Linked DNA regions of Homo sapiens. The gene in region 2 interacts genetically with the main gene of each other region. Each region holds a gene or a part of one and is shown on either strand. Other genes may lie near its edges.

Region 1 (7,028 bases), about 62 Mb from region 2:
GCTATTTGACTATTTTTATAAATTTCATCTAACCCACTTTAAGACTAACATCTTAAACTCCACATTTTAAAACTCAAATTAGGCCGGGAACAGTGGCTCACACCTGTAATCCCAGCACTTTGGGAGGCCGAGGCGGGAGGATCACAAGATCAGGAGTTTGAGACCAGCCTGGCCAATAAGGTGAAACTCCGTCTTTACTATAAATACAAAAAATTAGCTGGGCGTGGTGGCGCAGCCTGTAATCCCAGCAACTTCAGAGGCTGAGGCAGGAGAATCACTTGAACCTGGGAGGTGGAGGTTGCAGTGAGCCAAGATCACACCACTACACTCCAGCCTGGGGGACAAAGCGACACCTTGTCTCAAAAAAAAAAAAAAAAAAAAAAAAACTCAAATGAGTTTGGGATACCAGATTTAAAGCTAAGCTTTGTCACTCTCAGATTTTCACATTTTAATATTGATAATGATAGTTAACATTCTCTTTTCTGTTTTCAATCTCCTAAATCAAGTATTCTTAATCTGAGGTTCATGAACAGCCTTGGTGTGAACTGCCTATAACTTTATGCAAAATGTTATATGAGTATATAGACACAAAGGGAGCAGATGCATCAAATGTAACGTGAGTATGGCTACACGACCATAAATGGGTTAAATGTAACAGTCCCAAATCAAGATACCAGAAAATATCTATAAGGAGAGTAGAAAGGACAAAGAGTAATTCCACTTAAGTACTATTATTATACAAAGGAAATACATTCAGAGAAATTAAATCCATCATTGTTCTTGGAAAACATGAATTACATAATTCACTGAGTTTCACTGTTGAAGATCACTAGTTTGAGACGCAGACTGCACAAAATGCCCTATGTAAAGACCATAGATGGCCAAGTGAGGTGGGTCACACCTGTAATCCCAACACTTTGAGAGGCTCAGGCAGGAGGATCACTTGAGCCCAGGTGTTCGAGACCAGCATAGGCAACATAGCGACATCTCATCTCTTAAAAAAAAATTAGCCAGGCATGGTGCCAGTTACTCAGGAGGCTGAGACAGGAGGATCACTAGAGTACAGGAGGTTGAGACTGCAGTGAGCCATGACTGTGCTACCACCACTCCAGCCTGGGAGACAGAGCTAGATCATGTCTCGAAAAAAAAAAAAAAAAAAACCATAGCCACGTGGCTGGCACCGAGTAAGTGCTAAATAGCACCTAGTATTATTAAAAAGTGATGTTTCCAAAAGAATGGTCCCTCTTGTGAATAAAGGCATGCATATTTAACACTACTTGTCCTAATTAGGAAATCTACAAGCATAGAACACAGTAAACTTAACTGGAACCTATCACAACCTTGGATTTAATAAAGCAGTGTAGGGTGTTCCAGCCAATTGAGCCAACCTGTCACAGAAGTACCAAGGAAAACTATTTCCTACTTCTTCTGTACCCTATCTCTCACATGTTTCAGTCAGCCAACAAACTAACACTTAGTTCTCTGGCTCCTCAGGACCATTTTTCCCCTGAATATCATTCCACCATTACCCTATTAATAATCTGCAACACTCCCAGGGTGGTTCCAAAGAAAGGCCAAGACCTAAATTTTCTTCCCTAAATTACATTCCAGATATCAAAGCAGTAATCTCAGCCCCACCTTCTATAGGGAAACAAAGGAATAGTCTAATTGCTCCCCTCTCCCTCTAAAGCGGGGGCCGGGGGGGAGTCTGGGCATTTTGCCTAATTCTCAAAGGAAAATTCCAAAATGTAGTGGCGACAAAGTGGTAAAAAGCTGATAAGCAGCCAAACGTAGTGGCTCACGCCTGTAATCCTAGCACTTTGGGAGACCAAGGCAGGCGGATCACCTGAGGTCAGGAGTTGGAGACCAGCCTGGCCAACATGGTGAAACCCCATCTCTACTAATATAAAAATTAGCTGGCCGTGGTGGTGGACGCCTGTAGTCCCAGTTACTCAGGAGGCTGAGGCAGAAGAAATGCTGGAACCCGGGAGACAGACGTTGCAGTAAGCCAAGATTGTGCCACTGCACTCCAGCCTGGGTGACAGAGCAAGACTCTATCTCAAAAAAAAAAAAAAAAAAAAAAAAAAAAAAGCTGGTAAGCTACACATTTAAAATACCTCATGCACTGGCACACTACACCCATTTTCAGTTTTTCTTCATCTTAAGACACTCAGCCAAGCGTGGGGCTCATGCCTATAATCCCAGCACTTTGGGAAGCTGAGGCAGGTGGATCTCGAGACCAGGAATTTGAGACTAGCCTGGGGCAACATATTGAAATCCCATCCCTACAAAAAATACAAAAAAAAAAAAAAAATTAGCCAGGTGTGGTGGCACGCGCTTGTATTCTCAGCTACTCAGGAGGCTGAGGTGGGAGGATCACTGAAACCCGGCTAGGAGTTGGAGGCTATAGTAAGTTATGATTGCATCACTGCACTGTAGCCTGCGTGACAGAGTAAGACCCTATATCTCAAAAAACAGACACTCAAAGTTGATTAGCAAATTTTTTTTAAATCTCAAAACGTTAAGAAGCATCTTATTTTACCCTAAACATGTTCATATATTAGGAAAGTATATAGCTTGCCACAAAAGAAAGCTATTCTGGCCAGACGTGGTGGCTCACGCCTGTAATCTCAGCACTTTGAGAGGCAGAGGCAGGTGGATCACAAGGTCAGGAGATCATCCTGGCTAACACAGTGAAACCCCATCTCTACTAAAAAATGCAAAAATTTAGCTGGGCCTGGCGGCGGGCACCTGTAGTCCCAGCTAATCGGGAGGCTGAGGCAGGAGAATGGTGTGAGCCCAGGAGGCAGAGCTTGCAGTGAGCCCAGATCACACCACTGCACTCCAGCCTGGGCAACAGAACAAGACTCCGTCTCAGACAAAAAAAAAAAAAAAAAAAAAGCAAGCTCTTCTTTACTATCCAAAATAAAACTGAACTATTCAAACTACAAATAGTGAAACCATCACATAGGTATAGTCAAAACTACCCAGAAGAGAAAACACACACATACACAACACACAGCCAACAGATTGCTATGGAAGGTGAATATAGCAGGATGTTAGCACATACGTAAATTTTTTTTTTTTTTTTTTTGAGACAGAGTCTCGCTCTGTCGCCCAGGCTGGAGTGCAGTGGCGCGATCTCGGCTCACTGCAAGCTCTGCCTCCCGGGTTCAAATGATTCTCCTGCCTCAGCCTCCCAAGTAGCTGGGACTACAGGCGCCTGCCACCACGCCCAGCTAATTTTTTGTATTTTTAGTAGATGGGGTTTCACCGTGTTAGCCAGGATGGTCTCGATCTCCTGACCTCGTGATTCGCCCACCTCGGCCTCCCAAAGTGCTGGGATTACAGGGCACATACATAAATTATTAAGATTGCTTCCAGAATTAAAAAGACCAAGATACCTGAGAAATAAAATTACTCAGAAAGCAAAATTCCCTTTAAAAGCCAAGTAGAAGCCAGGCGCGTGGCTCACACAAGTAATCCCAGCAATTTGGCTGAGGTGGGTGGATCACGAGGTCAGGAGTTTGAGGCCAGCCTGGCCAACATAGTGAAACCCTGTCTCTACTAAAACTACAAAAATTAGCCGGGTGTGGTGGCACACACCTGTACTCCCAGCTACTTGAGAGGCTGAGGTGGAAGAATCACTTAAACCTGGAAGGCGGAGGTTGCAGTGAGCCGAGATCACGCCAACGCACTCCAGTGACAAAGTGAGACTCTGTCTCAAAAAGAAAAAAAAAGAAGCCAAGTAGAGAACTGGCAAGGAAGATTTGATTTTGAAGCACTTCCATCTTTAAGACAACGTTAAAAAAAAAAACTAAACTAAAATATTTGATGGTTAAAAACTGTCTAACATCCCTCATTTTAACTTAATTTGATTAAAGGGGGAAATTTTTATTTTTTATTTTTTTGAGACAGAATCTCACTCTGTCACCCAGGCTGGAGTGCAGTGGCCAATCTTGGCTCACGGCAACCTCTTTTTCCCAGATTCAAGCGATTCTCTTGTCTCAGCCTCCTCAGTAGCTTGGGACTACAAGCGCACACCACCACGCCTAGCTAATTTGGTGTTTTTAGTAGAGGCAGGGTTTCACCACATTGGCCAGGCCGGTCTAGAACTGACCTCAAGTGATCTGCCTGCCTCGGCCTCCCAAACTGCTATTACAGGCGTGAGACACCTCGCCCAGCCAAAAGCGGGAAATTTTTTAATGCAAAATTTCAGGCTGGACATGGTGGCCCACCCAGTGCTTTGGAAGGATCGCTTGAGGCCAGGAGTTTGAGACCAGCCTGCACAACATAGGAGGCACAGTCGCTACAAAAAAATTTTTAATGTGAAATTTCAGTTGTTATCTTCATTTTATTTTACTTTATTTTGAGACAGAGTCTTGCTCTGTCGCCCAGGCTGGAGTGCAGTGGCGCAATCTCAGCTCACTGCAATGCCCACCTCCAGGGTTCAAGAGATTCTCCCGCCTCAGCTTCCCAAGCAGCTGGGACTACACGCAGGCACGACCACACCCAATTAATTTTTCTATGCTTAGTAGAGACAGGGTTTTGCCATGTTGGCCAGGCTGGTCTCAAACTCCTGACCTCAGGTGATCTACCGCCTGGGCCTCCCAAAGTGCTGTGATTATAGGCATGAGCCACTGTGCCAGGCCTCAGTTCTTATCTTTAAATGATCCTACAAGATTATCTCATCATCTCATTCACACAAAATTCTCAATATATATATTTTAAAGGTTTTATACAACTACTGAATACTTAAATTACCGGAAGAATTACAGATGGTGATATTCTATAGACATTTAAAAAATCATATTCTGGACAATGAGAATACTAGTTATCTTTCTTCTTTAAACTTTTCTGAGTTTTTCAAACCACCACCAAAAGTCACAAAGACAACCTGCTTTCACTTTCAAACACTTAAGTTTTGTTAAAAATTATTTGAAACACAATGCAAGCAAAAAAAAAAAAAAAGGTCAAATGTTTCTTGAGTATAACATGAAAGAAGAGCAAAGTCTGAAAGACTGATAACATTTTCAGAGATTCTGGAGCCATGATATACTTAAGGGGATGGGGGCTAAAAATAAGGTAAATACTTTAAACTTTTTCTGCATTAAAGAATTATAGTTGATCTAAGTAGACTACTATATTTCTTCCTACTATAGTTAGCTGGTATACTGAAGACAGGTAGACATGCTTTATTCTTAACACATTCCTTAAAGATGAACCAATCAAAATTATTTTCTTGACACTAAAAAAATCCACTGGAAGCCAGTGGATTATGAAAAATGTTATGAGAATAATCACGAGAATAATGTTAAGTATTTCTTTCTTTTTTTTTTTTTTTTTTTGAGGAGTCTCACTCTGTCCCTCAGGCTGGAGTGCAGTGGCATGATCTGGACTCACTGCAGCCTCCGCCTCCCAGGTTCAAGTGACTCTCCTGCCTCAGGTTCCTGAGTAGCTGGAATTACAGGCGTGCACCACCACACCCAGCTAATTTTTGTATTTTTAGTAGAGGCAGTGTCTCATCATGTTGGCCAGGCTGGTCATGACCTCAAATGATCCGCCCACCTCGGCCTCCCAAAGTGCTGAGATTACAGGCGTGAGCCACTGCGCCTGGCCATGTTAAGCATTTCTTAATGTGCTGAAATAATCACTGCCTGCTTCAAAACGTAGCTCAAAAAAAATCCACATTTTTCTTCAGATCCTCAAAAAAAAGCTTTAACCCTTTCTATCTACTTTTTTAACTGTTCAGATTACACTTTCAATTGCCTTTTTTTTTTTTTTTTTTTTTTTTTTGAGACAAGTCTTGCTCTGTTGCCCAGGCTGGAGTGCAATGGTGTGATCTCGGCTCACTGCAACCTCCACCTCCGAGGTTCAAGAGATTGTCCTGCCTCAGCCTCCCGAGTAGCTGGGATTACAGGCGCCAGCCAACACACCCAGATAATTTTCTGTATTAGTAGAGATAGGGTTTTGCCATATTGGCCAGGCTGGTCTTGAACTCCTGACCTTAGGTGATCCACCTGCTTCAGCCTGATCAACATTAGAGATGGCTGGGTACTCTATACAAAAATTAGCTGGTTATGGTGGCAAATGCCTGTAATCCCAGCTACTCAGGAGACCAAGGCAGGAAAATCGCTTGAACCCAGGAGGCAGAGATTGCAGTGAGCCAAGATCGCGCCACTGCACTCCAGCCTGGGTGACAGAGTGAGACTCCATCTCGAAAAAAAGAAAAAGAAAAGAAAACAAAAACAAAAAAAAACACAAACAGCCAGGCACAGTGGCTCACGCCTGTAATCCCAACACTTTGGGAGGCCAAGGCCCGGGCGACAGAGCAAGATTCCGTCTCAAAAAAAAAACAAAACAAACAAAAAAAGTAATACAGCTACCAACTCTTATGTAAACCAATATAAATCTAAAAATTCTGTTGCTTCAGAATCTTTTTTCTCAAGATCCCATTTTCACTACCAAATTTAGCAGAACCCATTAACAAAGATTATAAATTTCTAAAAGAAACAATATAAATTGGTAATGATAAACCAAAGTAACTTAAGGAACATCTGGAGTACATTTGTAAACATTAGCTAATATACCATTGTTAGTTATTAAGATAACATACTGGAAGCAGGAAAAGCATCCACCCATTAAAGTTTTAATTGAAGAGAAAGCAAGACTTTGGAGTTTGGAACAAGATGTTAAAAACGAATGAGCTTGTATTTGCGTGATAAAACACTAAAGAACTTTTCTTTCTTTCCTTTATTTTCCAAATTTTCTCTAATTACTTTTATAAAGATAACAAGCTTCATTAAAACAAAAAGAAACTGCTTAAGTCAGATTACTAAAAATCTGATTGCTCACTGCCCTTGTGACCTCCCCTAATAAAATATCCCTCACTTCCTCTCACCCTAAGTAATTTTCACTAACACTTTTGCAAAGGTTTTCTCAAATTCCTGTATTATTTTACTAAACAGTCTAGAATACAAATATAGTAGGCCAGATACCCATGTATTTGATCCCAGAAAAAATATAAA
Region 2 (7,028 bases):
GGGCTGTCCTCCAACACTATCTGGTGTCCCATGTGGACTTCCACAAGCAGGCGGCGTGCAGGAGATGGTGTGTGCACGTGTGCCTACGTGTGTCAGTGCATGTGTGAGCAACTGTGTGGAGGGGGAGAGGACCAGCTGTTAGCTGAGAGTGCAGGCCCTGAGTTCACAGAGGCCCTGTTCAAATTCTAGCTTCCCCATTATCTATGTGGCCTCCTGTAGCTGGATATCACTTAACCAGGAGACCTCAGTTTGCTGATCTGTAAAACAAGCCAGTCACACCGTGAGGTGAAATGCTCAGCGCAGGGCCTGGCTCACCGTGAGTGGGTGCCTGTGGAAGGTCTGTGCTGCTTCTCCCCGCTCAGCCATCCCTTGCTCGTGCCTCCTTTCCCTGGCCCAGGTTTGGGACGTGACCTAAGACTGAGGGTGAGAGGGGCAGAAGCTGCCCTGTGCTCCGCCTGCAAGGGTGGGATTGACAGGGATGTGGGCGGGACTCATCACTCCCTGTGACCTCCCTGTCACCAAATATTCCAGGAAAATGCATTCCAGCTTCAAGGACATTCTTAGCAAAGGGGGTCCTGCCGAGCTTTGTGCATTACTGAGACCACTGTTCAGTCTGGACTTTGTCTGTCCAGCAAACATGATTCAAGGGTTATTTCAGGCAAAATATCAGCGAGTGACTATTACGGGATAAGCTGAACTGAGATTCCTCACGGTTTAGTCAGTGCTTTCGTAACTGCAGCAGGACAATGTCTAGAGTAACTCATTTCAGTGTGGCTGTGATGACACTTTCTGTGGGTTCACATTTAGCAACAGGCACAAAAGCCAGCAGGGCCTCCCACAGTCAAACCAGAACTCCTGGAAAGAACCCACCCTTTTCATGGTCACATACATTTGAATTGGAATATTTTCTGCAGTCTTTCTTATATTAAAATGATTAAAAGCAAACAGTCGCCCATCTGAGCAAAGAACTATCATAAGGCCTTTCTGGCTCATGTCTGACCGTGCACAGGTACCTGCAGGGAAATCCGGCCGATGCCGCTGAGCAGCTGGGGCTCTTGCTCTGGGTAATACTTGATAACCGAATGATACGCCTCCACGGCCAGCACATAATCCTGTGGGAAGAAAAACCCAACGTACTTTAGAGCTGAGAACAGCACTGTGGGTTTCACACGTGTAGAAGAGCACAAGTGTATACAGACGCGGTGTAGAGAGAGGACACGCTGACGCAGGAGCTGGCGGGGAAGCTGGAAACCAGCACGCGGTGCTCGGCTGCCAGGGGGCGGCTGCTCTCCCGACTGCAGTCGGGCCGGGATTCTGAGCTGTGCGCATCGCAACGGCGGGGTCCTGCCTGTCACCGGGGGCTGTCGCGGTTTAGTTGGGCCTGAGGGTCTGTTTCCTGCTTCCATCTTCTAAACAGCGATTCATATTTCACTTGGACTGCACCTAACTCTCTTTCCTGACAAAGTTATCATGTGAGTTGGCGAACGCTGTCTCATCTCCATCCTCCAAATACATAGGCCAAATTTTTAAAGTGTCTCTTAAACGTTTTCTATGCTAGAAATTAAGGTCAAACCTTTACATGTAAAGAAAAACCACAAAACAAGTTTGCTGAGGCTGAGTATGTGATGGAGGTCGGCCTTGCAGAGTGCGTGAATGTCGTGTGCTCCGTGCGGCACGCATGAGACCTTCCCGTTTTAGAGACAGCTACGGGGGAACATGTAGGAGCGCTGTGCCAGCTGCCGTGCTCAGGGCATCTGGTTTCTGCCAAAGGCCTTTGCTGGATTCCTCATCGCTCTGCCCTGCCTGTGGTGGTCTGGCCCGTGGCCCCTCCTCAAGGGCAAGGCCTGGCAGCACAGTCTCACTGTCCATCTGCCCACTCATGCCGGCCCATCACAGCCACTTGCTGGACGCTGAGCGGACCCAGTCACCCTTTCCAGGTGTGAGCAACGCGGTCTCCGTGCAGGAAGGTCTTGCCAAAGTCACGTGGGACACAGTGGTAGCTTGTCTCAAGTCCCCAGCAAACCCGGGCTCTCTCCAGGATGACAGTGATCGCCGCATTTATTGAGCGAGCTGTGTGCGGCAGGCCCTGCACTAAATGCTCCCCTGCATTCTCGCACTTAGCTATAAGCACGCGGTCAGCAGTAACTATGGCCACCAATGGTGTTTTTCTTCTTACTTACTCATCGTATAATCCCAGAGGTACTTTTATTTCTTTATTCTTCTACATGTTCCATTTCCTCCAAACTGGGACTGGAGTTACTGGCTTGCTAATTGGGATGTTACAAAGAAAGACAGACAAGTACAATTCCAGTTTGGTAGGAAGGAAAAAACAAAAAAAACCCAAAACGACTCTCTCCAGTCTAGTACCTTCGAGTACAGCTCATTAAAACTAATTTTATTCAAGGCCTGACGCCCATGACGAGCCAGACAGCACATGCCTCGGTCTCCTTTCCCACGCCTTCCTGCTGCCTGTCTCTGCTGTCTAGCTGTGCGAGTGCGAGCATGTGTGTGTAAGCGTGTGTGAGCATTGTGTATGAGTGTGAGCGTGTGTGTGAGCATGTGTGTGTGTGGACGTGTGTGTGTGAGCTCCCTCACACAGGGGAGGGCTTTGTGACCTGGCATGGGGGCACTCGGGGCGGCTGAGGTTGCAGCTGGGACGGACATGGCACCCCAGATGCAGCTGTGGGGCCTGCACACCCTGGGCTGGCCCTGATCTGAGAAGTTTAGGGGAGCAGCCCTGCTTTCCAACAGAGGCTGCACTCACCAGCTTGCACCAGCTCGGGGAAAAGTAGCAGCTGCCCCCCTAGGCTTCTCTGGGGAAGGAAGTAGGCTTCCGAGCACCCATCATGCTGGGCAATGTCTGTTCTAATCCCACACATGTCCCACCTTTGGTTTCAAGTAAACAAAAGGCAGGCTTTGACTTTCTTGTTATCAGCCCGGCAGTGTCACTGGGTCATTCCAGTGCCCCACTCACGCCACTGATGCTCCAGGCTGAGGCGGCCACCACAGAGAGCGCAGGGTGGGGGCGTGGTGGGGGCGCAGCACTCACTGCTAGTGGGCGATGCCGTGGCCAGCCGCATCACCCTAACCGCTCTTTCAGTGCTCAGGGCCAGGGGTCAGTGTTTCTGAAGATAATCTAGTATGACAAAAGACAGGTTTTTACGAAACCAAGCCATGCTCTTTGATGGGAAGTTACTTTAGGCATGGCTCTTCCCAAAGAGCACGTGCACAGGCCTGGGAGCCGTGTGAGAGGAAGCTGGATTCCAGGCCGGGGGCAGGCGCGGCAGAGAAGGGATCTCGGGGGCCCCTGCACCCGCCGGCAGCCACTCCCACCAGCTCAGCAACAGTAGCGCTCGCCAGTCCCTCAGGTGTGAACATGACACGTGTCTGTGTGTCCGGGCTGCAGTTGGGGGAAGAATTCTGGGGCACTTCAGGGGGCCCATCGTCAATACAGCAGATGAGGATTTGGGATTGTGTTACAAAGTTTCCTTAGGTTGACGGTTACTTAATGACTTTATTTACTGAAGAGGAAACAGCCCTTCACAGGTAAAATGGCCAAAAGAAGCTCCTCAAGAGAGCTTAACCTACTCTCCAGATCCTGTGGATTTGGCTTTTGTAAAGGACATGAATGACTTACTTCCAGGGACAAGTCTATTTTAGCTCAATCTTCACCATTTCTTTTCAGCAGCCACACGTGTTTACAGGCCGTGAAACTAGATTTACAACCATTCTGCAACCAGCAAGGACTTCTGCAGTCTAATTTCAGCAAGACGGAAGGTAGCTGATGCAGCTGCGTGCTCCTTTCCATCATGTGCGGAGCCACGGCGGGTTCTGATGTGCATACTGGCGAGCTGTGGGGACACCAGGAGGGAAGTGGCCTCCCAGGGGCACCCGGGGGAGGGGGGGCCCAAGCCACCTAAGGTGGCAGGCACCTGCATCCATATGGTCTGCCAGTGCAGGTGCCCTAAGGCTACAGTGAGGCCTAAGGAGAGGAAGAAGTATTTAAAAAGTGAAGATAGTGACATTTTCAATGCTTTATAATACATGCCACTGTGCATTATAGCATATCATGCAGATTTATCCAGGGCTAAAACGTATGAATACATTTCATTGCTAAGAAGTTAAATTGGTATTTATTTCACTGTAATAAAAATGTTATTCAAGATAATTAAATGGCTGATTAAATAACTCATTGTTAGCCCATATACATAATTTAATTAACAGGATACCCCATATTATTAAGATCACACACTGTTGCAATACCCTGTATGCTCACTAGATGGCAAGAGAGTGCATATGCTTGGCTTGGCTTTAATTGCAACATTTTTGCCTCCTTTTTTTAACTCATGAAAATGAAAGCTTAAGCTGAACTTTCAAATTAAATCATGTCCATTGTAAAAGTATTTTTGAAATGCAATAATATGTTCTGTACTGAGTCCCAGCAATACAGGAAGAAGACTCACATTCGGAGCCTGGTGGTGGTGTTACTACCACAGTGCCACAAAGAAAAGCCCATTCCGTCGTTTTCTATTAATGTGTCTTAAAATGCAAATGAAAGCCCGCCAGTGGAACAGGGAACTTTCCTCCCTGGGGAGTTTTAGCCCCATGATTAGTGAAACGTCAGTCCTGTGAATTTATAATTGATTCTTCATGTCTTTGCATAAGAATGTTCCGGCAAGCTGGTGACTTTCAGGTGACGCTGACAATGCCCTCAGCAGGTGGAGGCCTACTGCGGACCGCCCAGACCGCCAGGTGGGGGTGTCAGGGCTGGCCACAGGCAGCACAGGGAGAATGGCCTGTTTTGGGAGGCAGAGGGGTCAGGCCGGGTGCTTCGGGGTCACCTGGTTGCTGGCCAAGCCTTGGGTGGTGAAGAGGCCACCAGGGCAGGGGAGCAGGAGGGCCTACTTTTCACTCCCACTCAGAGGTGGGCAAGCCCTGCTGCAGAAGCCAGAGGGGGCTGGAGAAGGGAAGGGGGCGGGTGGGAGGAGGGTGAGGACCAGAACAAAGCACCTGTGCGGGCCACCTGACCTCAGTGGGACTATCTCAGGAGTGGCAGCGGAAGAAAAACCTGCTCTGAGCAAAACCACAGAACTTGAAAACCGTAATTTCCTTTATCCAGTGTGTTGAAGGAGAGGAGAGAGCTGTGTGAATGTCAGAGCTGGGAGGGATTTCAGAGATCTCAGATCTATGCCCTTATTTTAAGGAGGAGGCTGAGGCTTGCAGTAGTGCGAGGCTGCGTCACGGTCGCTTGCTACCGAGGATGAACAGGACGCCGAGTCTCCTTGTGCGTCCAGCCTGACGTAGACGCAGAAGCGCAAAGGCAGCGGCCCCGCACTGGGCACTGGGGCTGCGCTAAAGCCGGGGTGCGGGCTGCACGTCTTCCTGATGGAATGCCTGAGCCACTGATGGCTGTGAATCTATACCCGCACCCAGCCTGCTCGGAGCAGTGCCCGGGGTCACAGTCACCTCTGGGGATGCTGCAGGGTCCGTGCATAAAGCAGGGCTGCCACTTCAGGGTTCATGACAGAGCCCGTGAGCACAGTTCTCCGCTGGTAAATTGCCTGCTCTGCCTTGCTGAAAATCAAGCTCAGGAATGACCTTGGCCCCATGAAAGCCGCATGGGTGTGGGAGTTAAGGTCGCTGTCTTCGAACAGCCCAGGAGGTGTTACGAGCACTGCTCCGGAGCGCCTGCTGCTAGCTGATTCCTGCAGTAGCTCTCAGTACGCACAGCTGGCTGCAGGGACACTAGCTCCACACAGGGCACCCTGATGCCCAGTGTGGGAGGTGAGCCAGGTGTGGGGTGCGTTCCAAACAAAGAGAGGAGCCAAAAAACACCGTTGCACAGGCTGGCGAGAGCCAGGAGACACGGAAAAACAGATGACAGCCTCAGTTCAGCTCCTTGATTTCTAAGCTGTTTCCCTGCGGGCTGAGAGCTCTGGGGTGACGTCCTAAGAAGGTCTTGTGGGGAAGCCTGTCTTCAGGTGTTGTAAGCATCAATCATAAAATCAAAACCATGAGGTGAAAAAAACACCCTCCACGAAGATAGGGAGAACAAAGGACACCTTCTGGGGATGGAGTTCAGAGAAAAATGGGGGAAAATGAACAATACTTTTAATTAAATCATTTAGACCCACATTTCAATAATGAAATCTGATCATCTAAATTCTACATTCTGTTGAAATTTCTTGCAGTAGAAATAAAGTACATATAGCCCCATAATGTGTCACTGGGCTCCCTGTTAAGCCAGTACTTAGCTGGCTTCTCTGCACGGCCGGTCCCTGCCAGCATCTATTATACCAGCGGCTCCCTCGCGGCTCCCACTGACCCCGCTCTTCCAGATCACATGGCAGCCCTGCTTGGCCACCCACGTACCTTCATCAGGAGCAGACAGTTTGCCATGGAGTACATCACCCGGCCCAGACGTGACCTCCACAGCCGGATAGAGGCTACAAGGTAAGAGCAGCCTGTAAGTGCACAAATAAATTCGAGGCTCTTTCTAGCCCTCAATTACTGGGTCCTGTGAATTCTAATTTAACTTTAAAAGATCCCTCTTGTTAACACCACTGGATTTCGGCCTGGAATGCTGAATATGCTGCAGGCTGCACTGAGGCAGAAAATACAGCACTCGCATTGGGACCAGAGGTGGCTTTGGGAAGAGACCCTCGGCATCAGAGAACCAGGAGGGTGGCTGCTCAGCATCAGCCCAGACACAAGGCCAAATGGTCCGACCGGGGGCCCCGTTTCCAAAGCCAGAACCCTGAGAAAAGGAGCAAAGCTGACAGAAACGACGACATTGCCTGCAGCTCGACAAGGCTGGGAGGGCCACTGGCCAGGGTGGCCGCCAGCCTCTCGCAGTTGACCTATGGGAGGCCACCCGGAGGGCCCCACCCATGCCCAGCCATGAGGCCTCCCCTGCCTCCCGACCATGGGCTGGTGCAGACGCCGGTTCCCCCAAGGAGTGCTACACCGTGTTCCAGAACTCAAGTGGCTGGCACATTCCGCTGGGGACTCGGCACTCCCCTGCAGCT
Region 3 (7,478 bases), on a different chromosome or scaffold from region 2:
AGTGCACTGAAGTGATCACGGCTCATTGCAGCCTCTACCTTGCGGGCTCAAAGTGATCTTCCCACCTCAGCTTCCTGCGTAGCTGGGACTTCAGGTGTCCACCACCACCACCACTTCTAGCTAATTTTTTTTTTTTTTTTTTTTTTTTTTGAGACTGAGTTTTGCTCTTGTTGCCCAGGCTGGAGTGCAATGGCGCGATCTTGGCTCACTGCAACCTCTGTCTGCCGGGTTCAAGCAATTCTCCTGCCTCGGCCTCCCGAGTAGCTGGGATTACAGGCACCTGCCACCATGCTTGTCTAAGTTTTGTATTTTTAGTAGAGACAGGGTTTCACCATGTTGGCCAGGCTGGTCTCGAACTCCTGACCTCAGGTGATCCACCTGCCTTGGCCTCCCAAAGTGCTGGGATTACAGGTGTGAGCCACCACACCCGGCCCCTGGCTAATCTTTTCATTTTTTGTAGAGATGGGGTCTCACTATGTTGCCCAGGCTGGTCTCAAACTCCCGGGTTCAATTGATTCACCTGCCTTGGCCTCTGAAAGTGCTGGGATTACAGGGGTGAGCCACTGCGCCTGGCCATCCCTTGGTTTAGAATACTATGGTGCTCACCAGATCTTCCCAACAGTCCCGGTCAGGGAGGGCTGATGCCTCCCTCCACAAACAGCTAGCCCAAAGGGCTCTCAGCTTGCTGAGTCTAAATTCTCACTTTATGGAGAAAGAAATCAAGACACGTGACCTGCCAAGGCAACAGAGCTGGGTATCCTAACCTGATTTCTGAAACTTCATGGTTTGGTCCAGTAGGAGCTATTTAGGGAATCCCCAGTACATGCCCTGCGTGTGCCTAGCTTGGCAGAGAAGGCCCCAGAAGTAGAAGCCAGGGCCCAGCCTAGAACCTATTAAGTTGAAAACCCACGTAGAGAGACTGATGGCTGGGTGCTGTGGCGTGTGCCTGTGGTTCCAGCTACTGGGGAGGCTGAAACAGGAGGAGGATCCTTGGAGCCTAGGAGTGTATGACCAGCCTGGGTGATGCAGCACAACCCCGTCTCTCTTTTCTTTTGTTTTTTCGAGACAGAGTCTCGCTCTCTCACCAGGCTGGAGTGCAGTGGCACGATCTCGGCTCACTGCAACGTCCGACTCCCTGGTTCAAGTGATTCTCCTGTCTCACCCTCCAGAGTGGCTGGGATTACAGGCATGCGCCACCATGACTAGCTAATTTTTGTATTTTTAGTAGAGACGGGATTTCACCATGTTGGCCAGGATGGTCTCGATCTCCTGACCTCGTGATCCACCCACCTCGGCCTCCCAAAGTCCTGGGATTACAGGCCTGAGCCACCGCACCCGGCTAACCCCATCTCTTTGGAGACAACAACAACAACAACAACAACAACAACAACAACAACAACAACAAAAACCTGTTATGAAGTCACCAGGAAGAGGTGGTCAAGTTGCAGTGAAAATTGCACTTAAGGCTGGGTGCAGTGACTGACACCTGTAATCCCAACACTTTGGAAGCCCGAGGCACGAGAATCATTTAAGCCCAGGAGTTTGAGATCAGGCTGGGAAACATATCGAGACCCTGTCTTTACAAAAAATTAAAAAATGTGCCAGGTGTGGTGGTGTGCCTCTGTATTCCCAGCTACTCAGGAGGACAAGGCAGGAGGACTGCTTCAGCCCAAGAGTTGGAGACTGCAGTGAGCCATCGTCACGCCACTGCACTCCAGCCTGGGTGACAGAGAGAGACCCTGTCTCAAAATAAAAAAAAAAAAAGGCAAAAGGTAATCACATTTAATATACTTGAGTTCCAACCTGTGGACGGACCCTGTGTGAAGTACTTTAAATGCATCATCTCATTTAATCTTCACAACAGTTCAATGAAGTCAGTTTTGTCATTGTCAACTAATGAGGAAACCAGAGGCCAGAGAAGGGAAGTGACTTGCCCTAACTTACACAGTTTATCGCTTTAAGACTCAAACCAGGTTTCTCAGACTCCAAAGTCCCTTCGAGAGCCTGCTGGTTCCCTTCTCTGTTCCCCTCCCAATCCAGCTCAGAGCTTCACCCTTCCCCAAGGAAATCTGAGACCTGGATGTGGAGTAGAAAAAGGAAGTGGCAGAAAAGGAAGAAGATAACTGATACTTGGGGAAAACTATTAGTCCTGGGCATGAGATGTGGGCCACCTACCCGCAGGGGGAGTGACCAAGAGTGAGGAGAGTTTGAGGACCAGAGAATCCCACAGGAAGGGGGAGAGCAAATTCCATATTCATCTAAACTTCACAGGCAGTGTGACAGCCAAGGGAAGGGGTGTGACGGTGGCGTTGGGGGCCTGAGCAAAAGCGAGGAGAGGGCGGGAAAGGACGGACCGGCGGGAGCGACAGGACAGCGCGACCCAGGCAAAGGGTAGGAGGCAGCCCCGGAAGAGAGGACCTGCGGGAGACGCGACCCAAGCGGCGCTTCGGGGCCTCCCGCGTAGTTGGCTAGCTTCTGGGCCGGCCCCAGGAGCCGGGCTTCAGGAGAAAGAGAAGGGTAGAGGGATTCACTGCCCGACCTAAAGGGCCCAAGCCTGAACCCGAGACCAGAAACTATCAAGACGGGCTCCAAAACTCCGGGACAGTTGTCAAGCAGCAGGTGGGGAAACTGAGGCCTGAAGTGACCGGGACTGCGGGGTCATCTGACCGATAAGGCCTGGTAGGACCGATGTCTCGAGCTCCAAGAGCTGCCCCTGGGGGTCGCCACGTCTGGGCCCCGGGTGCGAGGGCTCGGGGTTTTGAGCCGGGGTCCTGGGGCCCCTGGGGGGAGGGGCAGAACCCGGATGTGGGGGGGGGTCAGCGGAAGAGGGACCCGGATGTGGGGGCGCCGCACAGTCCTGACCCGGGCCAGACAACCCCGGTAAGCGTACAGCCCTGTATTCGGGATCGAGGCTGCGCTGGACGGCGCGGGCGGGGCTCACTCACTATTCGGGGTTCATGGCGGCGGCGGCGGCCCGCTCGGTCGCTCCCAGTCGACTCTGCTCCGCCTCCCGTTCCAAGATGGTGGCCGCTCCGCCCCAGAGGCCCCGCCCGCGACGCGCAGGCGCAAACGTCTTCTTCTCAGGCCTCGCCGCGCTGATTCCCGGAACTTGTAGTCTAAGACGTTCTCCAACTCAGCCCCGCTGCGCAGGCGTAGTCGGGGAGCCCGCGCCTCCGCGCCCACTCCCATCACTGCTGGCGCATTGCCTTCTGGGGCTTGTAGTTTGCACTCCGGACGCACTCAGGCTTGAGGACAGTGCTGGAAAGCCTGACCGCGACTCGGTGTTTAGAAAGCTCAATTTAGGGCTGGGCTTGGCACGTTTCACATCTGTCTGACGGAGGTAGTCATCCTTGCCCTCCCAATACCCACGTTGTGAACATTAAATGAGAATGTGGGTTCTAGTAAGACTAATAAAAGTACATTTGTCCAGGGTTCTTCGTGTACTGGGCAGTCCTAACTCGCAGCCGCGCGTCATCACCCGCATTTCATAGATGAAAAAACTGAGTCTCGGGAAACTCACTCAAGGTCAAAAACTTTGTGAGGAGCAGAGCTCATAAGAGCCCGCGGTCTCCAGAACCCCACAAGTGAGTGTTTTAGGGAAAGCCTGACTTGTGGGCCCCTCACGCAATTCCGGGGTGGGGCACAATATCTGGGCCCAGCTGCGCGGACAGCGGTTGAGCGAGACACACTGTCCCCCACTCACGCACGACCCTTCCCGGCTCCACCCCAGTCTAGAGACGCTGGGGGCCCCCGACCTCCGTCTCAAAACAAGCCCAGCTCAGATTTAAACCGTCTTTATTTCTACAGCAACATCTGAAAATATGAGAGCAGCCGCCTCACCCGCAACAGGGGGAGCCCCTCCTGCCACCAGGGGACCGTCGCCGCCCCTCGCGAGAAGCTGCAGGCGTGGGGGGAGGCGAGGCAGGATGGCTCGGTGGGCGGTGCCCGGGGCGGGGTCGGCCGTGCCTGGGCGGGGCCGGGTGGGAGGGGCAGTGCATAAGGCCGGGATGCGGGGCAGGGCCCGGCGGTGGGAGGACGGACTAAGGGGAGGTCCCCGTCCTGGGCCACGGGGCGATGGCGCGGGTAGGACGCATCCCTCAGAGGCCAGGAGGAGCGCGAGAAGGTCCCAGGACCCCCTTGGGAGGCGCCGCTCCCGAGAATGTAGAGCCTGGGAGATACCACCGCACGGAATGGGGGTGATTAAGGCCTGGGCGGTACCACTAGAAGAGGGACGAGGGGAGGCCCGGGTAGTACCGTGGACTGAAGGGAGGCGCGCGGCCAATAACTTATTTCTCTATATACAGAAGCAACGGCCGGGTTGAGTCGGGAGGGAGGGCGAGGGTGCCGAAGGGCCGGCGAGTGCTTAGTGTTCTTGGCTCTGGGGTCTGGGGAGGCCAGGCCACTGAGTCTATGGTGGAGACTCCAGCCGGCACCTCCTGCTGGCCCGAACCTAGGGAAGAGGGCCCTGCTGGAAGGAATAAATAAGGGATGGAGCTGGAGTGGGCAGGCCCAGCCTCCAGGGCTCAGGCTGAGATGACAAGGGAGAAGGTTACCCTGAGATTGAACAGAAAAGACAGGGGCTGTGGGAGAGACAGGCGGGACAAGCAGCAGGCCCATGCGCAGGGCTGGGGTGAGGGGGGTGTGCCAGGTGGGCGCTCTGGTGACTGGCTGCCCCTTCAGCATTAGCCCACCAGGGAGCTTCGTCGGGAGAGGTCCATGGAGCTGGAGCTGAGAGTGCGGCTGTCAGAGAGACCTGTGCCTCCAGGCTGTGGGCAGAGGGGGCAGGTGGCTCAGCCCTGTGCTGCTGCCAGTCTGTGCCTCCCTGGCCTGAAGGGGTCTGACCTGGCAGAGGCAGCCGGAATCCCTGAGCTGGGCAGAGGCAATGGCAGTTCTGACCCAAGGCCACACCCTGGTGCCCTGACACTCCCGTCCATCTCCACAGTGACGGTGTTAGCACTGGCCGTTTACACGTCCACCCCCAGGAGAGGCTGGGTTCCCCTCGTGTCTCCCCGTTGTCCAGCCCAAAGTAGGCCTGAGACAGAGCCAGGAACTGTTGCTGGATGAAGAGGCATGCTGGAGGGAAGCTTGGCAGCACGCATGCAGCCCCGGCCGCAGCTGCCCAGTGCCCAGACACCCGCCTGCCCCTACCTGGGTCGGCTCTTCCACGCTCTTGTTGAGGAAGTTGAGGGAACTGGCCCGCTTCATCCTGAGGGAAAAGGACAGCCTGGGATTTGCCCAAGGAGGAACTCACGGGAGATGGGGGCAGGGAGAAGGGTGGGGCTGGGGAGGGAACAGACTGGTGGGTGGTGGAGCCTGAGAGGGATGGGGAGGTTGCCTGGGGTCAGTGGGGCACACTCTGGGTCAGGAGCTCATCCGGGGTTGCTGGGTGGTTCTTGAGGCTCACCTTGGTGGGGGGCTCACCTGGGGTTAGGGGGCTCCTGGGGGGTGCCCCCCTGCAGCTTCTTTACCAGCATCTCACTGCTGCGCCTCAGGGCATCCCGGAGTTTCCCAAAGGAACCGCTGCGCCTCAAGGAGCCACTGCCATCCTGCAGGTGGACAGGCTTGCCTCTAGGCCCCGCTGGCCACCTAGGCTCCCAGCCCGACCCGGCCCAGGCCCCGGACTCACCCCATTCCACTCAGCTGTAGGTCCCACGTCCTCGAGGTCAGACTCAGACCGAGGCCCGGCACCCCCAGCCATGTCTCGGCTGCTGCGGCGGTCTCCCCGCCTGCCACTGCCATCTTTCAGCAGTTCTACCACCTTGGTCTGGCTTGCGGGGTCCAAACCCTGAGGGAGGGGCAGGGGCATCAGGCAGTGAATGGACCACACCCAGGGCCACACAGGTGTCTGCCCACCCCCTCCTGCATGGAGCCCCACCTGCTTGCGGTTACGGCTGGCACAGTCCTCTAGTGTGTGCGCGGCTTCCAGCTTGCCCTGGCGCCGGTATAGGGCCCCCAAGCTGCGCAGGGTGGTGTTGACTGTGGGGCTGTGGATGGGACAGTCTCAAACTCCATGTTCCCCCAGACCCAGGGCCCATCCTGGCACCCAGCCCACAGTGGGCCCTGAGGAAGCATGGACCTCCGGGGTAGCCAGAATCCATTCCTTCCCATGTCAAGCCCTGTGCTGGGCCCACCCAGCCTCTTCTGTCCTGGGGAAATCACCCCAGGGCTGGGGACCTGGCCCCAGGGCCCTCATGGGATGTTGTCACCAGGACCAAAAGCTGGGAGACCCAGAGCCAGAGAATTAGGCTGAGAATTGGGAGACAGAGCCTTCTTGGGACAGGTGACCTGTGAGTTGGGCCTTGCCAGATGAGCAGCAGAGGAGGGGTGTGTTGGGGGTGAGAGTATGGAATGTGGAGCCCGCCCTGCCGTGCCCTGCTCCCCAGCCCAGCCCCGCCCCACTCACCTGTCTACTTTACAGGCCTTGTACCAGCTGCCGTATTCCCCATAGGGGGCGCTGTCCCGGCGCTTATCCTGGAGGAAAGAATGGTCACAAGAAGTGAGAGCAGGCCCCCCTCTGCACATCCCAGCCTCCCCTGACAACCGCCCAGCCTGCCCCACAGAGCTACCTTGCTTTCCTCCCGCTCCTCTGCGTGCATCCAGATGGGCTTGTTGTCCCCTGGGGAGAGAAAGGGGACTGTCACCAGCCTACCATATAGGTCTCACCTGGTTGGGCTGGACACAGGACTGGGGTCAGGGGAGGGGAGACCACGGTTGGGCTTCGTTGAATGCATGAACAAGAGTAAGACCCAAAACACTGCTGACCCTCTTCTGGACAGAGATGAGCAGAACAGACCCTTGCACCTCAGGCCACAGCCCAAGACATGTGCTAGGCCTGAATGATGGGCCAGGCTCCGAGGGACTCAGGAGCAGATGACTGACCATCCGGGGCCAGAGGTGGTTTCCCAGAGTGGGAGACACTGGGGCAGGCCCTCAAGGTGAGCAAGAATCGCCAGTGGAGAAGGGGGATGCAAAGGCGTGTGAGGCCCTAGCAGGCCAAGGGGGCTGCGTGAGTTGGGTGTGTGCTCATGTGTGCAAACGTGAGCACAGGTGGCTGGGCACCATCTGAGGGTGAGGCTGGTGACCAGCCAGGCCAAAGCCTGAGGGCCTGCCCTGCTGAGGGATTTGTCCTGGGTGCTGATGGCAGAGTGGGCCTGGGATGGATGGGCTAGAGGCACCTGGTGACCACGCACTCACCATTGACAGAGCCAAACTCTTTCTCATGAGCGCGGGTGAGGATCTCCTTGTACAAGGTCTCCGCATCCTGGTACTTGCCCTGCTTCAGGTAGCAGGAAGCCTGGAAGCGGGAGACCCAGAGAGTGAGCGGGATGCATGCAGCCAAGCCTTTTTCTCTCCTTCTTCCCCAACCTCATCCCTGCCTCCCTCCTTCCCATCCTCCAGCTCCTCTCAGCCCCAAGGTACCAGGTTGTTCTTGGTCTTGGCCACATTGGGGTCATCGGGCCCGAGGCGTGTAGCATAGA
Region 4 (6,015 bases), on a different chromosome or scaffold from region 2:
TACAGAGCCGAAACTGCTTTTAATCATCTGAAGAAATTCTTTGATTTCAGTGACTTACTGATCTGTACCTGTGCACATATCATTTTATGCTTCTCCTTTTTTCCCCGCAACTTGAACTGTGACTCTTTCAGATATTTCTTAAATCTGTATGAGTCATTTTTTAAGCTTAGGGATTTGATATGTATTAATGTCCCCTTTGTCTTCTGTAGATTTTAGCATTTTATTACCTCTTAAGAAACTCTGGGCCCAGACTTTCAGTCATATTTCTTATTCCTATGGTACAGTTCTCACTTAAAGGCTTAATTATTAGTAGGGTTAAATATATACAGGTTATCTCTAAAAGTACTTAAATTTTTAAATAAGGGCTTATGTGATACAAGATACGGAAACAAAAGTTTTTGGATTTTTATGCAGTAGTTTGCAGGAAAGCAAATACATAGTAGATCGTATGCCACTTAGGTATGTTCAGGTCATGCCAGTTTATTCTTGTTGGGCCACACACACATGTATGTGTGTGTAAAAGGAATTTTTAGTATTGAAGCAAACAAATTGTCAGTTTAATAATTTTCTCTTACATAGCACAAGATGGCAGATACCACCTACTGTACAACAATCTAATAATCCCTACCTTAGTTCCCCTGAGTTATAGAAGATGCTAAAGATTTAGTTGTAAAGGGAAGTAACATGATTTTTTTTTTCTAAAAAGCTGTTTTAAGCTAACTATTATTTTGCTACTGGAAAATTATATTTTAAAACTTACAGATATTTAAAGTATGCTAGAAAATTTGAACCTGATAACAACTGAACCTTTTGTCTTGAATAAATTTCTCAAATAGAACTGTGCAAACCCTAGCACTTTATGTGTTGCTGCCTCCCCATACCTAGGTATGCTCTGTAATAAGCTCCCATTTAATGGAGAGATGTGTGGAGGCACTGAGAAGTTAATGAAGAAAAATCAACCCTAAGAATTCCTTATTGTCACATAGTGTCTTTTAAAAAATAACTGTAGAGACTGTGTTAATTCGAGTGCCTTTCTTACTTTTTTGGGAGCAAGATTATATTTAATGTTTAAGAAAACAGGATGGAAGTTTTATCAAACAGTTGATTGTGGCCCATTGTTTTATTTATTCCCATCGCTAGGCATGGCCCCGTAGGGTATTTTATCCTTCAGTGAGAGACTGATATAAGCAGGCAGGATGCTTTGATTATTCCATTAGTTATCATTTTAAGCACCCTACCAAGATTTAGTTCTTTCTTTCTGGCAACTAACGTTTTGGGGGTTGGAGGCATCCCATTTAGAGGATGGTGTGTGCACAAATAGATTAGCCTGAAACCTGCGTCCAAAGGGAAACAGTGGCACTCTGCCCTAAAATAAAGGCCAGAACGTTGTCCTAAATGAATCCTTTGCCTTACTTTAGGACCTTCCTTCCCTCTCAAATTCAGGCATAATGTAATATAGTTGAAAGGGGGAAAACAGTACTTGCTTTCTCTCAGGTATTGGAGGAAAAGAAGTAAATGCGTAGATGAAATTTTAAATGTATCATTTTATCTGTTTGTATATGGAGAAGGGAGGGATAGGAATTCCATATTTCAAGATAGCAAATATAATTTCATAGAAATATATAGCTAAAGATTCCAAAGTGCTTTTACAGAGAACTGTTGAATAATATATTCCTAAAGGGCAGCAATATGCCATGTTCATGGTGAAGACAGAAAACCAATGAATCAGTTGTGGATCTCAGGTGGGAGAGGAAACCTCAGGCTCCCAACTTTGACTTCTCTACTCTCACCAGGCCATGTTAACACTGTAAAACCAAACTCTTTGCTAAGAACAATACAGGGCAGTAGTTTAGTCTGCTGATGAAACCTTGTGCTTCCAAGAATATTAGCTATATATAATTTGTGCTTTCTGGATGATTCTATTGTCCAGAAAGCTAACCCTGACGTTACTTTTATTAGTCTGTTGTTATTCCTCAGGGTGTAGAAGATTTAGTAAATTCAGGACAAATTTTATATTCAGTGGCAAAAAGAAAAGGCAAAAATATGCTAAATATATTATTAGCTCTTAAATTTTAGTATAGATCGTATTTTTTATAAACTATTACCAGTACAGTAGCTAGTAGATATTCTGTGACTGCCTCATTGTTTATCTTGCTGCTTTGGTCCCTATGGCTCTAGTATGAACATTCTCGTGTCTTCTGTGGAAATGATTTCTGTGTTATAGTTCCATCTTTGGTAGAGGTGGGGATGATTGTATTTTGTTTTAGTTGACATCATTCTCAACTTTTAGAAATACTGTTGAGGAAAATGATTACCGTTGGTTTTCAAATTGACAACTATTTTGCTTCCAAAGACTTCAGTTTCCCTTTGTTTTATGTGTAGACCTCATATATGTTCAACACATTGCATACTGCCTTGCACATTGTAGGAATTCAACAAGTCAAGAGTTGATAAAAGCTAGAAAGATAAAACTAGCTTAGCTATCATATCATCATTGTCCATATTCTTAGCTTTGGGAAAAATATACCATTTTGCATAAAATACATAATCAGTTTCAAATGCATAAGGCAAAGATATACAGTTGCACAACATTGCAAGTGAAATTTACAAAGGATTTTTATTTTTGTGTATGCTAAAAGTGCTCCTACTTAAAGCAGTTTTCTTTATTAGACCAACACCTTCCAGCAAAGTTAGAAACCAAACACAAGTGCTCATTTGCCCAAATTAACCAGATAGTTATGTAAACTGTTCATATTAAGTCTTTAGTGGTTTACAAACAATAACATTCTGGCTTTTCTTCCATACCTTTTAGGAATCAGCCTTAATTTTAAGTATAGCAGTCACTTTCCTCAAGGTACTATGCAGCATACTTTAGATTGCTTATTTATCATTATAAGGTGATAGGTAATAAATTTGAGGTTTACTTGTCATATAATTTCATATGGCAGATATTGATTCAAGGAGCATTCTATTAGAAAAAGTTGATAAATTATCCTCCCTTACAAATATCATCTTGCATTTGGAGCAGGTATTTTTTTCTTATTAGTTAAAGACTGGGTACAGTTATAGTAGATGCTCAATAAATGCTTAGTCAGTGATTGATCTAACATCAAACTAACAGCTTTCAGAAAGGAGACTGTTGACATCTTTTCACCAAGGAGTATATTTGTAGAGTAATATATGTGTGGAATTTTGAAATTATATCATTTGACATGATTTATGAGGCTTATTTAAGCTGGAGTTAGTAACGTAATAGAAGTATTATTTATACAGAACATAGTTGAAAGATAGGAGATGTGAAAGATTAAGTAGTATTTTCTTGTGCAAGGCATATTAATAAATGTAATTAAATGTCTTAATAAGCAGCTGGCTGAACTCTAGAGAGAACTGCTGTAGTCTTCTGCAATCAGTCTCTGTATTGGTATATCCAGTACTATCGGGTTTAGGTTCTTTTTATTTTTCCTTAAATCTTACTTGTTTCTAGCGTCTTAAGAGTGGTAATGGTAAAATGTGAAGTTACAATAAACTTCTGCTTGTTTTCTCAGAACATCTTTGGCATGAGGAAGAACTTTTTGTGAATGATACAGTAGTCTCAGCATCTGTTAATTTGTGGTTTTCAAAGCATTTTTGACAGAGTTTACCTAATGTAAAAAGATTAAACAGTTTTATAAAACACAAATAAACATTCCTACCTGAACTGTGAGGAACAGAGTGTATAGTACAAATGTAATTAGGCATTGCCTCCTGGCGAGGTTCTTGATGCATGACTTCGATGCTGGCTGCTGACTGAGGTGACCACTGTCAGTATTGTACTTTGGCATATGTTGTTTTTAGGAAAATAATGGAATGCATTCTTAGATTAACTTACTGTTTTTGAGTTGGAAAAAATAAAAGATGAGGTATTATAAGTATGCCAAATATTTATACACTACAAAAGATTAAAAAAGGAGAGGGAGAAAAAAAAAGGCCAGTTATGATTTTAATAGCGTCTAATTTTTTTTTGACTCGAATTTTGTGGACACTAGTCAATTGCATAATTTAACATGGAGGAGCTTTCATTTAAAAGAAGTTCTCAGCTACTATATTCTGCCATTAAAATTAACCATGCCTGTTAATTTTACATTGCTTGAAGATATAAGTAAGCTGCCGTCAATATTGTTTTAAGATTTTCTTATAGTTTATGTTTAAATGGAAAAGTTACATATATAATCTATGGTGCAGGGTCAGGCATTGGCCATTAAAGATAAGTTTGGCTAACTATTTTACTGAAGAGACTAATGGTCTTCCCTCTGTTGTACTGCTATGTTTCTTGATCTGTTTTTCCCCAATGTAACAGTCTACATTGAAGTCCTTTAGCTCTCTCCATATACTAATTGACATTTGTTAAGGATTCAATATTTTGTGAATTCTTTTTACCCTTAAAATGCATATCTTTCAGAGAGATAAGAATGAATTTTGCAATAATTTATATGCAGAGTGTGCTTATGGGTTTCTGGGAGTTCAAGTTAGTACCCCAGAGTGCTTAAAAGTATGATGCTAAATTCTAAGGCTAATGTAATGACTGTAGATTATCTATGTCCACATTGTTCAACAGAAATATAATGTGAACCACAACATAATTTTTAATTTTCTAGTAGCCATATTAAAAAAGAAACAAGCAAAATTAATTTTAATAACAGTTTATGTAACCCAGTATATTAAAAATATCATTTCAACATGTAATCAATATAAAAGATTATTAATGAAACACCTTATCTTCTTTTTCTTCCATACTAAGTCTTAGATTTGAGTGTATTTTGCACTCACAGCACATCTCAATTCTGACTGGCCACATTTTAAGTGCTCAGTAGTCACATATGGCTAAGGGCTACTATACTGGACAGTACAGATTCATAGAGTATAAAATATGACTTTAACTTTGGAGATGGTGAGGTAGGCCTGTAATTATGGTACTTTAAAAATTCAGAATATTTAGAAAAGCATCTAATAGAATTATCCACTTGTTTTCCTTCATCTTCATTTTAATATGTTCTAGAAGTAGGATCAGCCTGTTCCAATTTGCCAAGCATTATTAAGGAGGAATAATTCCATACCATGTAAAATACCATGATATGCTGATTATACTACATTAACAAATTTTTAAGTTGCGTTCACTAAATTCTGTCCTGTTTCTTCAAAATAATATAGCTTAAATTGCATGTTAATTGTATATCTTACCTATTTTGTTTTTATATTATTCTTACAATATAATCATGTATATTAACAAACAGCCCTGGGATTCTAATCTTCCTCTGCAACTGTCTTCCAGGACTTACTGGCACTTATTACACTGTGATAAGTGGCAGAAAAGTAGAATGAAATATTCTTTTTCCATTAGATTTGTTCTTATGTGACCATGTACCAAGCCAGCTATAAAGTATTGTATTTCTGTAGAATATGGAAAATAGTATTTGTCTTACCTTTGCTAAATGTTTGCAATTTCTAAGTAAACCTTTTATCTCCTAAAATGAGTGTTAAGTGTGATTTTGTTTTTACTTTTGGTGCTTTAAACTTGAGTCTAGTCTACCAAGCTTTCCATTTTATTTGCTTTGATGGTGGTAGGGGGGTGGAGGTGTGAACTGTTGTCTAAATGAAACCAATAATTTTATGACCTACATTTGTAGAAAGAATAAAAATGCCACTATGTCTAGAACATAAAAGAAATGTCAAAAACAAATTAGAGATATCGCCACAGTTGTTTTTAAATTGTATTAACAGTGACTAATTGCCTTATAAAAGTTATTATGACTAGATACGCTTTTTCCCATCCATTTCAAATGAAGCTGTAGAGCACATATAATTACTCGGTTATTTTAGTGTTACATCCTATGTTTTCTCAATCCTGAGTCTCACTTCTGTATGTTATAAGCCAGATATAGTGGTCTTACTTACACAATATAATACATAGATAGACTCCAAAAAGTGTTTGATAAAGTGGATACTTTTTTTAACTCAAATTTTAAATATTTCAGAAGT

What was found.
Region 1: changes in TRAPPC12 (region 2) and RAB1A are lethal when combined (synthetic lethality), as found in Homo sapiens cells (2 studies listed by BioGRID, with this or other methods).
Region 3: changes in TRAPPC12 (region 2) and RAB1B are lethal when combined (synthetic lethality), as found in Homo sapiens cells (one study listed by BioGRID).
Region 4: changes in TRAPPC12 (region 2) and PTAR1 are lethal when combined (synthetic lethality), as found in Homo sapiens cells (one study listed by BioGRID).

Annotation. Positions count from the first base shown.
Region 1 is NC_000002.12:65,120,095-65,127,122, forward strand, and holds part of RAB1A (ras-related protein Rab-1A), read right to left. Parts: intron 1-7,028. UniProt on the Homo sapiens protein: The small GTPases Rab are key regulators of intracellular membrane trafficking, from the formation of transport vesicles to their fusion with membranes.
Region 2 is NC_000002.12:3,459,681-3,466,708, reverse strand, and holds part of TRAPPC12 (trafficking protein particle complex subunit 12), read right to left. Parts: intron 6,447-7,028; coding exon 6,373-6,446; intron 6,066-6,372; coding exon of another isoform or gene 6,006-6,065; exon of another isoform or gene 4,111-6,005; intron 1,113-4,110; coding exon 1,014-1,112; intron 456-1,013; exon of another isoform or gene 1-455. UniProt on the Homo sapiens protein: Component of the TRAPP complex, which is involved in endoplasmic reticulum to Golgi apparatus trafficking at a very early stage.
Region 3 is NC_000011.10:66,264,161-66,271,638, reverse strand, and holds the start of RAB1B (ras-related protein Rab-1B), read right to left. Parts: upstream 3,001-7,478; 5' UTR 2,960-3,000; coding exon 2,946-2,959; intron 1-2,945. Other genes in the region: KLC2 (kinesin light chain 2), read right to left, coding at 4,683-4,766, 5,149-5,206, 5,422-5,546, 5,627-5,785, 5,876-5,984, 6,404-6,471, 6,567-6,616, 7,195-7,294 and 1 more. UniProt on the Homo sapiens protein: The small GTPases Rab are key regulators of intracellular membrane trafficking, from the formation of transport vesicles to their fusion with membranes.
Region 4 is NC_000009.12:69,709,017-69,715,031, reverse strand, and holds the end of PTAR1 (protein prenyltransferase alpha subunit repeat-containing protein 1), read left to right. Parts: 3' UTR 1-5,507; downstream 5,508-6,015.